Linked DNA regions of Homo sapiens. The protein of the gene in region 2 purifies or fractionates together with the protein of the main gene of each other region. This does not show direct contact. Each region holds a gene or a part of one and is shown on either strand. Other genes may lie near its edges.

Region 1 (3,625 bases), on a different chromosome or scaffold from region 2:
GACTGTTTTCTCACTAAAGTTCAGGTGCTGGTTTCACTATTCCATTATATAAAACCCTAACATTAAAAGGTTTGGTACAGATGTCACAGCAATTTTTGTTGTTTTGTTTTTTCCTACATTAACAAATTGTTTCTGCTGAATTAGTCATATCTAAGACACGAAGAAGTCAAAATTAATACAAGGGTTATTTTCTCCCCAATTCTATGTTAGATGAACACCTTTATTCAACTACCTAAACAAAATTAATTCATGTTTTATTCTGTTGTTCAAGATGAATATTACTGTTTTCCAGGAAGCCTTAAAAATTGAGTGCCTAAGAAAACTGCAGATTTACTGTTACTCAAAACTCACTCTTCAATATGATAATCACAAAACACCATAAAAAAAATCCCTTTTAAACTGGATATGAATGCTGCCTGTAATTTTTAAATGTTGTCTTTACTTTTGAAACAGAAAAGATAATTTGGGAAGAGTACGAGGCCCTCGTTACAACGAAACACTGTGCTAAAAGGTAGATGTCAGAAAATAAATGAGTTTCATCCGGGACTTCTGTGCCAAAGGTTTAACAAGCAAATACTGACTGTCTAAAACATCAAAAGTAATCTTAATAATCATGGTATTTTCGAGAACACTTTAATATTCTTACTTTTACCACTAAAACAATTTTAAGAATATTTCTACCAGAGAAATCTCGAAAGGGAGAGACTTACTAAACTACAAATAGCAAGTATAAATTATTAAACAATTATATTCAAAATAATTATTAAAATTCATAATACTAAAAATTCAATGCAAAAAATCTGAAGAGGGGAGAGAATTACCTTTAACTTTGAGTCCAAGTAACTTTTGGCGTTCTGGAAGAACTCCTGTAAGGGTCTTGAGAAACTGTTTGAGATCGAGCACAGTATCATCTTCTGAAAGTGTGGTCACTGAATACTCCTGTCCACCCCATTTTACAATGATAGGGAGAGCCATTCTTGAAACATATGAGGAAGCAGCTTTCCTTCAGAAAAAAAAATACCTGGAAAGGAAGACAAAAATGAACAAGTTAAAATAGATACTGTTTATTGAAGCCAAACTTTTAAGTTTTATGTGTACAGTTTAAGCCTTATTTTACAACTTATGATAGAGAGGATTTTTGTCCATACAGGAGTGCTACCAGAACACCAAAAGATACTAGGACTCAAAGTTAAATTCCCCCACACTCCTAATTTTTGGCTTAGAGTTACTACTTTCTAATACTCTGAGTCTCACTGTTCAACTGGAAATGTGCAATTATGAGCTACCATTCCTCCTGTTCTATTTGGTCAGGTTGATGCTACAAGCAAGTCCTTCCCTGACAGACCATCCATGTTCATTTAACATTTGAAAGGTAGTGTGGTGTAGTTAAGAACACAGATTCTAGAGCCAGATGACCTGGGTTCAGATCCCAGATCTCTCCCACTTAGCCATCTGACTTTGAGAAGTTACTTGACTCTCAGTGTCTAGGTTTCCTCATCTGTAAAATAGGGATGATGATACTACCTACTTCTTAGGGCTTTTATGAGGATTAACTTAATTAACATTTACAAGGTACATAGTGCCTGGCACCTAGTAAACACTACATAAATTAAGTATTGGTTAAACAAAAATCTTTTTAAACTAAAAGCTTACTATGTTCCAGGCAGGCACTGTGCTAAATAAATAGTAAATAGCCATTCTTTGTTTCATATTTTATGAATTGAAGTTTTTACACAATCTCATTAGAGAAAGTAATTTGGTAAGTTTTCCCTCTTTTACAATTAAGGAAACAGGAGTTTTGAGAGGCTATACAATCTGTACATAGACACATAGCTAGTTACAGAACAGGTCTTCTGACTAAATCTTATGTTTCTTCTCCTCCACAATTGTATCTCTTCAGTTGAACATACAAGAGTTAAGGCATCAAAGATCAGTGTATTAGTCTGTTTTCACACTGCCAATAAAGACATACCCAAGACTGGGAAGAGAAAGAGGTTTAATTGGACTTTACAGTTGCAGAATGGCTGGGGAGGCCTCAGAATCATGGTGGAAGGCAAAAAGCACTTCTTACATGGCAGTGGCAAGACAGAATGAGGAAGAAGCAAAAGCGGAAACCCCTGATAAACCCATCAGATCTCATGAGACTTATTCATTGTCATGAGAATAGCATGGGAAAGACCACCCCCCAAGATTCAATTACCTTCCCCTGGGTCCCTCTCATAACACATAGGAATTATGGGAGATATCATTCAAGTTGAGATTTTGGTGGGCACACAGTCAAACTGTACCATTCTGCCCCTGGCCCCTCCAAATCTCATGTCCTCACATTTCAAAACCAATCATGCCTTCCCAACAGTCCCCCAAAGTCTTAATTCATTTCAGCATTAACTCAAAAGTCCACAGTCCAAAGTCTCATCTAAGACAAGTTAAGTCCTTTCTGCCTATGAGCCTGTAAAATCAAAAGAAAGCTATTTACTTCCTAGGTATAATGGGGGTACAGGTATTGAGTAAATATAGCCATTCCAAATGGGAGAAATTGGCCAAAACAAAGGGGTTACAGGGCCCATGCAAGTCCGAAATCCAGCGGGGCAGTCAAATGTTAAAGCTCCGAAATGATCTCCTTTGACTCCAGATCTCACATCCAGGTCACACTGATGCAAGAGGTGGGTTCCTATGGTCTTGGATAGCTCCACCCCTGTGGCTTTGCAAGGTAAACCCTCCCTCCCAGCTGCTTTCACGGGCTGGCATTGAGTGTCTGTGGATTTTCCAGGCACACAGTACAAGCTGTTGTCAGATCTGCCATTCTGGGGCCTGGAGGGTGGTGGCCCTCTTCTCTCAGCTCCACTAGGCAGTGCCCCAGTAGGGACTCTGTATGGGGGCTCTGACCCCACAATTCCCTTCCACACTGTCCTAGCAGAAGTTCCCCATGAGGGCCCCACCCCTGCAGCAAACTTTTGCCAGGGCGTCCAAGAGTTTCCATATATCTTCTGAAATCTAGGCACAGGTTCCCAAACCTCAATTCTTGACTTCTGTGTACCCACAGGCTCAACACCATATGGAAGCTACCAAGGCTTGAGGCTTCCACCCTCTGAAGCCACAGCCCAAGCTGTAAGTTGGCCCCTTTCAGCCATGGCTGGAGTGGCTGGGATACAGGGCACCAAGTCCCTAGGCTGCACACAGCGCGGGGACCCTGGGCCGGGCCCACGAAACCTTTTTTCCTTCCTGGGCCTCCGGGCCTGTGCTGGGAGGGGCTGCCATGAAGGTCTTTGACATAGCCTGGAGACATTTTCCCCACGGTCTAGGGGATTAACATTAGGCTCCTTGATACTTACGCAGATTTCTGCAGCCAGCTTGAATTTCTCCACAGAAAATGCGTTTTTCTTTTCTACTGCATAGTCAGGCTGCTAATTTTCCAAACTTCTATGCTCTGCTTCCCTTATAAAACTGAGTGCCTTTAACAGTACCCAAATCACCTCTTGAGTGCTTTGCTGCTTAGAAATTTCTTCTGCCAGATACCCTAAATCATCTTTCTGAAGTTCAAAGTTCCACAAATCTCTAGGGCAGGGGCAAAATGTTGCCAGTACCTTTGCTAATACATAACAAGAGTCACTTTTACTCCAGTTCC
Region 2 (3,625 bases):
TGCACATTTTTATTTAATTAACATTTATTGTGAACCAATTACATGTAAGATACTCAATTGGGATTTTCACAAAAATACAATTTCCTAAAACAAGTTCAGGGAAACTAAAGCCCTATCTACCAGAACCACAAGCCTGGATATCTATAGACAGATAACAAAAGGAAAACTTAAGGTTACTGCACAAATCACAAAATCAATTAAATTGATGTCCAATTATTTTCCTGCCATTTTATAAAACTTCAAAAGTAATACAAATTTACAGTAAAATACCACCAACACTTGCTAAAATGGCAATTGGTAAACTTGAATAATACATTTTTCATCACTAAACCCTTGTTTAATGACAAATTATTGACAAAAATTTAAAACTAAAGTCCAAACATACGTATCATATACTTAGTAAGAGATTCAATATACAGCTTAGCATCCAACTCCACAATTTCCAGAAAGAAAAACATCATCTCCTTCCTTATTCAATTTGATAACTGAAAGATTCATAAGATAAGAGAACACTATTCACCAATAAAAGTTTATTCTTTTTCCCATCCTGTATCAAGCTTTTGTATCAGGATATGAACTTACATTTGTAAAAGTCTAAAGATAAAGAAATAAACCCGTTTGGTTCAGTTGAGCTATAAACATTAAGAAATCCTGAACTGCGATTGTAAGTATAATTAACCTAAAATCTTTCAAATCACATATTTCAAATTGCATTCTAAGCAACAATATGTTAGACACAGGGGCCACTGGCTGTGTTCTAAGAAATGATAATGCTAAAAAAGCAATATAAGATTTAAATTATAATTGTATTATAAATATTAATTTTACCACCCTAAAATTGTAATATACTTGCAAACTAAAGTATAATACAGAAAAGCTCACCTTCATCCACAGAAAACTGACAGCTCTTATCATTGAAGAAAAGTATTTTCTTCTTATCGGGACGATTTACAAATAGTATCTGGTCCCCCAAAGCCTTAAAGATAGATAAAATAAAGATTTTTCAGTTAACTCCAAATTACCTCACCAAAAAAAAAAAAAATTTAAACAATAAAGGAGTTTCATTTCCTTAACACACTCAGTATACCACCATAGGGTCCTCCACCATAGGTCCACTGGACCCAATTTTAGTTTTAGTTTTGTTTTTAAGAGACTCCACCCAGACTGGAGTGCAGCTCACTGCAGCCTCAACCTCCCAGGCTCAAGCAATCCTCCCACCTCAGCCTCTGGAGTAACTGGGACCACTGGTGCATTGCCACCACGTCTAGCTAATGTTTTCAATTTTTTGTAGACAAAGGGTCTCACTATGTTGCCAGGGCTGGTCTTGAACTCCTGGGCTCAAGCGATCTTCCCACCTCAGCATCAGAAAGTACAGGGACTATAGGTGTGAGCCACTGCACTCAGCCCCAATTTTAGTTTTTGAGTTTCTTTCTTGAGTAGTTCAATTTTTTAAAAATTGATATTTCCAGACTTGTATTCTTAGAGGTCTTCCAAAGAACAAAAATAAAACGTGTTTCACTTAAAACGGAAAATTCAATCTTTGCTGCAATTACTATTTGGGTCCATGGGGCTCTTTCACTAATCTAAGACACATAATAGAATCTTGGTGTTCTTACTTTTCCTCTACCTTGAGATATTTCGCTCCTTACTCATCATTACCCATCAATTATTTCCAATTGTGCTTTTAAAACGCTAAAATAATAAGAAAATAGAAGAATGATTAAATCACCTAGAAATGTGATGCAATAGTGAAATACATGGGCATCCTTCAGTTTTCTTACTGCATTGCCCAAAGGATTACATTACTCCTTTTCAAGAGATATAAAAGATTGGAAGAGTCTTCTTGTTGTCTTTTAACTTTCATTGAGTACACCTGACAAAAAAAATTTTGTATTTTCTACCCTTGAGAGCAAAGACAAGAAAACTGACCAAAGACATTTCACAATTATTAGATGAATCAAAATATGAATGCAAAAAGCCAAATAGCAGCACTCTAGACTATCTGGCAAAAATTCATCATAGGAATAAAGTCTCAAGCTATGGAGTCTTTAGATGACAATAACTCAAGTGAAGATTCTCAAGCTTAAGAATCAACAAGCGAACAAAATGCTTCTCAATACAAAATGGAAACAATATTCTCATCCCGTTATTCACCAGAAGATTATCACACAGTATTTTGTGAAAAGAATCTTTATCATCTCACTTTGCTAAAAGGATATATGACAGTATTCTTCTTTTTGATGTGTTTTCCAAAAATTACTTGATACAGAAGTTTGCTGTGTTAAATTCTTACTAAAATCTCTAATAAAGCTGTTTTCATCATCCCATTATTCTTACTTATGTAAATTATTCATAAAATGACTTAAAGTAGCTTAAAAATAATAGTCCACTAGATCAAGGTGGTAAAAGGTGATAACTACAGGATGAGCAACCCAAATCCCAAAATCTCGAATCCAAAATCCAAAACTTTTTAAGTGCTGACATGACATGCCAAAGAAATACTTACTGGGGGCCAGGTGTGATGGCTCACACCTATAATCCCAGCACTTTGGGAGGCAGGAGGATCATTTGGGGTCAGGAGTTTGTTTGTTTTGAGACGGAGTCTCACTCTGTCAACCAGGCTGGAGTGCAGTGACGCGATCTTGGCTCACTGCAAGCTCCGCACGGTGGCTCACGCCATTCTCCTGCCTCAGCCTCCCGAGTAGCTGGGACTACAGGTGCCCGCCACCACGCCCGGCTAATTTTTTGTACTTTTTAGTAGAGACAGCGTTTCACCATGTTAGCCAGGACGGTCTCAATCTCCTGACCTCGTGATCCACCCGCCTCGGCCTCCCAAAGTGCTGGGATTACAGGCGTGAGCCACTGCACTCGGCCGAGGTCAGGAGTTTTGAGACCAGCCTGGTCAACATGGTGAAACCCCATCTCTACTAAAAATAGAAAAATTAGCTGAACACGGTGGCAGGTGTCTGTAATCCCAGCTACTTGGGAGGCTGAGACAGGAGAATCTCTTAAACCAAGGAGACAGAGGTTGCAGTGAGCTGAGATCACCCCACTGCACACCAGCCAGGGCAACAGAAAGAGACTCCGCCTCAAAAAAAAAAAAAAAGAGAAAGAAAGAAAGAAAGAAATACTCACTGGAGCATTTTGGATTTCAGATTTTCAACTCTGGAATGTTTAAACTGGTATAATGAAAATATCCCAAAATTTGAAAAAAATCCCAAAATCTGAAACAGTTCTGGTCCCAAGCATTACAGATAAGGGACAGTCAAATTGTACATACATAAAATAAATGAAAGAACCTGAAGGCATTGCTAAAAAAAATTAAAGACATGAATAAATGAATTCTGTGCTCATGTATTAAAAAACTTAATACAGTTACGATGGCAATACTACCCAAAGTTACCTATTCAAGGTAATCCCTATCAAAATCCCAATGGCATTTTTTGCAGAAATGGAAAAATCCATCCAAAAATTTATATCAAATCTCAAGGGACCTCAAAAAGCCTGAAATGGTTTAGATCTGTGTCCCCATCAAATCTCATGTCAAACTGTAATCCCCAATGTTGGAGGTGGGGCCTGGTGGGCGGTGACTGGTATGAAGGTGGATTTCCCTCTTGGTGCTGTT
Region 3 (2,828 bases), on a different chromosome or scaffold from region 2:
TCCTTTCCAGTCAAGTTGACACCTAAAATTACATCCACAATTCCACCCCTTATCAACTTGGCACCCAGACTCATCTCTTTAAACCATTTTTAATTTTCAAATGAAGACAATAACAAGGTCCTAGCTTTTCCTCACATGATGCAATTAACCAGACGCGACTATCCTGCATACAACTCAAAGAGTGCTAATCCTTTTGCCAGAATTCAGCTTTCAGAATTTCATCATTCAGAATTCAATCTTTTTTTTTTTTTTTTGAGATGGAGTTTCGCTCTTGTTGCCCAGGCTGGAGTGCAATGGTGCAATCTTGGCTCACCGCAACCTCTGCCTTCCAGGTTCAAGTGATTCTCCTGCCTCAGCCTCCCGAGTAGCTGGGATTACAGGCATGTGCCACCACGCCAGACTATTTTGTATTTTTAGTAGAGACAGGGTTTCTCCATGTTGGTCAGACTGGTCTCGAACTCCCGACCTCAGGTGATCCACCTGCCTTGGCCTCCCAAAGTGCTGGGATTACAGGCATGAGCCACCGCGCCCAGCCAGGATTCAATCTTTTGGAACTGTGATTTTCAAGATATTAGAAGTTCAGGCTTTGGACTTTAGAGATTTTGATTTTTTTATGATTTCAACATTGGGATTGTGGCATTTGGGATTGTCTTTTAGGATTATGATCAGCACTGGAGTAAAGCATGCAATTGAGCTATCTCTGAAAACTCAATGTAAATTTCCATAGTGTGCTTTGTACTAATTTTTGCAAAATTTTTAAGGTAATTGGAATTATCAATCTTCCACTAAAATAGCAATTTTTAAGTGGCTTATTTTAAATAGTTGCTAAATTTGCTAAAATCATGTATCTAAAACACTACGCATAATATATGACAAAAATAAATGCTGGGAAAAAAATAAAAGGATTTGTGGTAAACAAGGCTGACCAACCTTTAGTCTTAAGAAAATATCTGGCTGGGCGCGGTGGCTCACGCCTGTAATCCCTGCACTTTGGGAGGCTGAGGCAGGTGGATCATGAGGTCAGGAGATCAAGACCGTCCTGGCTAACACGGTGAAACTCCGTCTCTACTAAAAAATACGAAAAATTAGCCAGGCTTGGTGGCGGGTGCCTGTAGTCCCAGCTACACAGGAGGCTGAGGCAGGAGAATGGCGTGTACCCGGGAGGCGGAGCTTGCAGTGAGCTGAGATAGCACCACTGCACTCCAGCCTGGGCAACAGAGCGAGACTCCATCTCAAAAAAAAAAAAGAAAAGAAAATATCTGACGTTTACAACATCTAAATGTTTGCTACAAATTTATTACTAGAGAATACAATATTTAGGTAACATGAAGCAAAGAAAATATTTGACTCTTACGATTTCTAACTGTTGGCCATAATCTTCACTTTCTATGACCTTGATCAGTGGCTTGAGCTTTTCTTTCAGCTTCTTGCCTTCATTGACTGGAAGGATGAACCGAAGCCTCATGTGAGCACGTTCTATCTTCATTTTCTCTTTTAACTGCTTTATCACTTCCAAAGCCTACCAAGACAAAATCGAGAATGCAATTTCTTCTACTATATTATTTCATAAGGTTTTCAAAAACAAAGTAGTTTCCATGTAGTTGGATTAGGTAATGGTTTCTTAGGTATAACATTAAGAACATAAGTGACCGTTAAAAAAAAAATAGAAAAATTGGACTTATCAAGAAGAAAAGCTTTTGTGTTTCAAAAAACTATGAAGAAAGTGAAGGCCAGGTGTGGTGGCTCACGCCTGTAATTCCAGCACTTTGGGAGGCCGAGGCGGGTGCATCACAAGGTCAGGAATTCGAGACCAGCCTGGCCAACATGGTGAAACCCCGTCTCCACTAAAAATACAAAAAAAGAAAAATTAGCCGGGTGTGGTAGTGCACGCCTGTAATCCCAGCTACTCAAGAGGCTGAGGCAGGAGAATTGCTTGAATCCGGGAGGCAGAGTTTGCAAAAAGAGGGCGGGGGGGGTGGGCAAAGAACCTGAACAGAGATTTCTCAAAAGAAGACAGACGAGGCACCAATAAGCACATGGAAATATGCTCAAATCATCATTAAGGAAATGCAAATCAAAACCACGACAAGATACCACCAGGATGGCCATCATCAAAAAGGCAGACAATGACAAGTATTACTGAGGATGTGGAGAAACTGAACTCTTAAACACTGATGGTGGTAAAGTAAAATGGTGCAGCTGTTTTAGAAATAGGTTTGGTAGTCACCAGGTATACAGAAATGAAAACATATGTCTACACAGAAACATACAAGAAATTTTATAGCAGCATTGCTCATCATAGCTCAAAAGTGAAAGCAACCCAATGTCTATCAACTGATAGATGAATGAACAAAATGTGTTTCTTTCCGTACAGTGGGCTATTATTCCGGCATAAAAAAGAAATGACATGCTGATGCAGGTTACAACATGTATGAACCATGAAAAGGCCACATATTGTATGATTCCATTTATATGAAATGTCCAGAATTGAGAAGTCCATAACGAGAGGAGATTAGTGGTTGGGAGGGGCCTGTGGGGGGAAAATGGGGGATGGCTACTAATGGATACTGACTTTCTTTTTGTGGTGATGAAAATGTTCTCGAACCAGGTAGCAGGGAAGGTTCCAAAACTTTGTTAATATACCACTTAAAGTGTACATACTTTATGAGTGTGAAATTTATGGTATGTGAATTATATATAAATTAAAAAATTCAAAAAGAAGTGTTAAAATGACCCTTTAAAAACTCAAGTTTTGTCTTTAAAAGTTTGATTTGGATAGGAAGAAGAAAGTCCTATATACATATTTGTGTTTACTTGAAAAAAAAAAA
Region 4 (3,625 bases), on a different chromosome or scaffold from region 2:
TTTTCTAATAGTCACATTTAAAAAGTAAAGACACAGGTGAAATTACTTTTAGTAATATATTTTATTTAACCCAAACATATCCAAAATATTATCATTTCAATATATAATCAACAGGAAAGAATAGATAATTTACATTATTTATTAAGTCTTTGAAATCCAGGGTGTATTTTAGTTACAGCACATCTTAATTCAAACTAGTCACATTTCAAGTTCTCAGTGGCCACATATGGATGGGCAGAGGCTACCATATTAGATAGCATAGGTCTAAGCAAGTCCAGAAGTATGAGACCCCCCAATAGCTAAACATGAATGGGAGAAAACTTAGTTTCTTCTAAAAGTTGTATTTATTTTTCTGATTTTCTTGAATGCAATGGAAACTGCAACCTGACTTTTAGCAAGCCCCAGGCCATCTCCTTGCATGACTTTAATCACTGGATTTTTCTTCCCAAAAATTAAATCATTGGATCCGGAGCAAAATGTAGATTAGGCCCCTCAATGTTTTTTCCCTTAAATTATAACTGAACCCAAACTCTTCCTGTCATTAATTTTAATATCTTTTTTTTTTTTTTAGACGGAGTCTTGCTCTGTCGCCCAGGCTGGAGTGCAGTGGCACAATCTCGGCTCACTGCAACCTCCGCCTCCCAGGTTCAAGCAAATCTCCTGCCTCAGCCTCCTGTGTAGCTGGGATTACAGGCACGCGCCACCACGCCCGGCTAATTTTTTTTTTTTTTTTTTTTTTTGTATTTTTAGTAGAGACAGGATTTCACCATGTTGGCCAGGGTGGTCTCAATCTTCTGACCTCATGATCCACCCACCTTGGCTCCCAAAGTGCTGGGATTACAGGCACGCGCCACCATGCCCAGCTAATTTTTGTTTTTTGTTTGGTTGGTTTTTGAGACGGAGTTTCGCTCTGTTGTCCAGGCTGGAATGCAGTGGTGCGATCTCAGCTCACTGCAAGCTCCGCCTCCCGGGTTCATGCCACTCTCCTGCCTCAGCCTCCCGAGTAGCTGGGACTACAGGCGCCCACCACTGCGTCCGGTTAATTTTTTGTATTTTTAGTATAGACGGGGTTTCACGTTAGCCAGGATGGTCTCGATCTCCTGACCTCGTGATCCGCCCACCTTGGCCTCCCAAAGTACTGGGATTACAGGCGTGAACCACCGTGCCCGGCCTTCCCCAGATATCTTCAAAGCAACTGCTAGTCCTGCTTTTGCACATTACACTCTACATTCTCATTGCCCCACTTAACTAACCCTCCCTCATGTCCTTTTCTAAAGATGTAGAAGACTTTGAAATAGCATAACATTTAAATGGTCACAAATCACCTGGCTTGAAAGTGACTAATAATAGGAAAATCAGACCTCAGGACTGAGTTCAATTTCAAGATTCTCCCACTCCACTTTGCTAAGAGGGAAACAGAAAAACATTACTCCAGCCACACAAATATGATACTGTGCAAGTATCCCACTCTTACTCATTCAAATCCTACCCATTTTTTCCCATCGTGGAACAGAGTCTTGCCAACTTATACCTCTCTCCAATAACCCATAAAGATGGTGATTTGAATTTGGGCCAAGATTTAACATTTTATGAAATACAAGAGGAGAGTTTTCTGCAAAACACAGGATTTGCAGACAAGGAGACTTAGGTTCAAATTCCAGTTCTGCCATTTATTACCTCAGAGAGGTCATACAACTTTCCTGAAGTTGTATGACCTCTCTGAGCCTTAGTCTCCTCGTTTGTAAAATGAGAGTTAAAATCTACCTCATGGAATCATTGCTAAGATTAAGCAAGATATATAAGTAGAGCTTGTGCACATGGTAGGTACTTGGAGAATGTTATTTCTCCTTCCCTCTTACTCATCTGGACAAGTTTAACTAGAATTCTAAACAGTTAAATATGTATCAATCCTTTGTATTAAATATCTTGATGGTAAAATGTTAAAATATTGATGTGAATAACAGCTGGTATTGAATATTCAAATTAGGGGAACTCTTTCATTGTTTTAAGATAACATCTGTACATTTAATCTGTGCCATGCAATAAAACAGCTTTTCCTGAAACAGCTTTTTAAAAACTATTTTTAAGAAATTCATAAGTTACTTTTAAGAACATTAGCTTAGAACATCTTCCCCTTTCACAACAAATTAGACATTAGAGCCAAAATTGCCCAAATTGGTATAGTTTCTATCTCCCTACACTTTAATCAAGATGTTTGTCTTTATATCAGCAAAAACCGCTACTTAAGTGAGATTCCTGCATCCCAATAAATGTATCTGGGCATTTGGTACTTGAGAGAGGATTGGGTTTGACAACACCCAGAAGCTAATGAGGATGTGCCTTCTCTCAGACCTTTGCATTCAGGAGCAAGAAAGCAGAAATACTTTGTGGACTCCTTTTCAGACACTTTACAAAATACAAAATTTTAACCTTGTGAAACACAAAATAAATGCAGGATAAATGTCCAAACATTTTAGCCCCTACTGTTTTTGAAACTGAATAAAGCCATGATAGTGAAAAATATTTTCCAGTCAGTGCTTTTTGGAAGCTATTTAGTAGATATTAATTTGATGGGTTAGAGATTGCTATTATCCCATTAAATGAAGCTGTTTCTACTTCATATTCAAATATATTTCAAGTTGAACTTGCTTAAATCTAAAATGCTTACACAAGCAAACTGTGGAAAGAATTTAGTCACGCAAAAGAAAACTTTTTCTTAATCCTGGATAAGTCAACTCTAAGAAAGCTGTCCAGAGCCTACAGAGCAAAAAGGACTTTCCTTCCAGCCTCCTCACCATGTCCAATCTAGTCCAGATGTGAAGAGTCAATTTTGGTTTTAAACAAAATTTGCATGCAGCAGCATTAGAACTAATGAAAACAGTATCCAGACTAAGACGTGCATACAAAATCTTTCACATCATGAGAAACTAAAAATTTGTTAAAACATCAGTCGGCAGGAACAGACATCTCAAGCTCCACTGATAAGGGAAGCAAAACTGGAACTACATGCCGCTTTTAAAAGTGTCTCAAATTTAAGCTCACTCAAGGACTATTAATAGACAGTGTCAAACTGACATGCCGTTTCATCATTAAATCATCTTATTGGTTTGCAAGTTTCCAAGCCTCAGGGCTTCATTATGCATCAGCATAGGACAACACCAGAATTTGGGGACAAAGACAACATCCCTTTTTGAAAGAGGTGGTAAGAATAAAAACAGGTTGGCCAACCTTGGAAGCCACCGCAGTATGGCTTCCCATGAACCAAAAAGGCAATTGAATTGTATTTGTTTTCAAGGCATACGTTTGGAAAAATAGCACTTTTTCCAAGCATGTGCTTAGTTAGAACAAATGATTTATTGCTTAAAACCCAGTCTTTTACTCACACGCTTGTGAAAATAAGAAGAAATTACCTATTTCACCATAGATTATTAAATGGACGTTAACAGTTATTGACAATCGAGTCTTGTGATAAGAAATTAAAATTATAAAGTAAATCTTCCCGTCTTTAAATTCTAGGTGGTAGAGTTCTGAGAACACTTACAATGAACTTTAAGGGAGTAATTGATTATGCTTTTGAAGTCTCCTATATTCACATATTGGCTGAAAGTAAAGCATTTTAAAATTG

The links.
Region 1: the proteins of GTF2E2 (region 2) and UBLCP1 purify together in Homo sapiens (affinity purification with mass spectrometry; 2 studies listed by BioGRID and IntAct, with this or other methods). This does not show direct contact.
Region 3: the proteins of GTF2E2 (region 2) and SBDS purify together in Homo sapiens (affinity purification with mass spectrometry; 2 studies listed by BioGRID and IntAct, with this or other methods). This does not show direct contact.
Region 4: the proteins of GTF2E2 (region 2) and MCTS1 purify together in Homo sapiens (affinity purification with mass spectrometry; 2 studies listed by BioGRID and IntAct, with this or other methods). This does not show direct contact.

What each region holds. Positions count from the first base shown.
Region 1 is NC_000005.10:159,266,266-159,269,890, reverse strand, and holds part of UBLCP1 (ubiquitin-like domain-containing CTD phosphatase 1), read right to left. Parts: intron 1,022-3,625; 5' UTR 976-1,021; coding exon 822-975; intron 1-821. UniProt on the Homo sapiens protein: Dephosphorylates 26S nuclear proteasomes, thereby decreasing their proteolytic activity. Recruited to the 19S regulatory particle of the 26S proteasome through its interaction with 19S component PSMD2/RPN1.
Region 2 is NC_000008.11:30,606,175-30,609,799, forward strand, and holds part of GTF2E2 (transcription initiation factor IIE subunit beta), read right to left. Parts: intron 977-3,625; coding exon 883-976; intron 1-882. UniProt on the Homo sapiens protein: Recruits TFIIH to the initiation complex and stimulates the RNA polymerase II C-terminal domain kinase and DNA-dependent ATPase activities of TFIIH. Both TFIIH and TFIIE are required for promoter clearance by RNA polymerase.
Region 3 is NC_000007.14:66,989,783-66,992,610, forward strand, and holds part of SBDS (ribosome maturation protein SBDS), read right to left. Parts: intron 1,520-2,828; coding exon 1,355-1,519; intron 1-1,354. UniProt on the Homo sapiens protein: Required for the assembly of mature ribosomes and ribosome biogenesis.
Region 4 is NC_000023.11:120,617,577-120,621,201, reverse strand, and holds the end of MCTS1 (malignant T-cell-amplified sequence 1), read right to left. Parts: 3' UTR 43-3,625; downstream 1-42. UniProt on the Homo sapiens protein: Translation regulator forming a complex with DENR to promote translation reinitiation.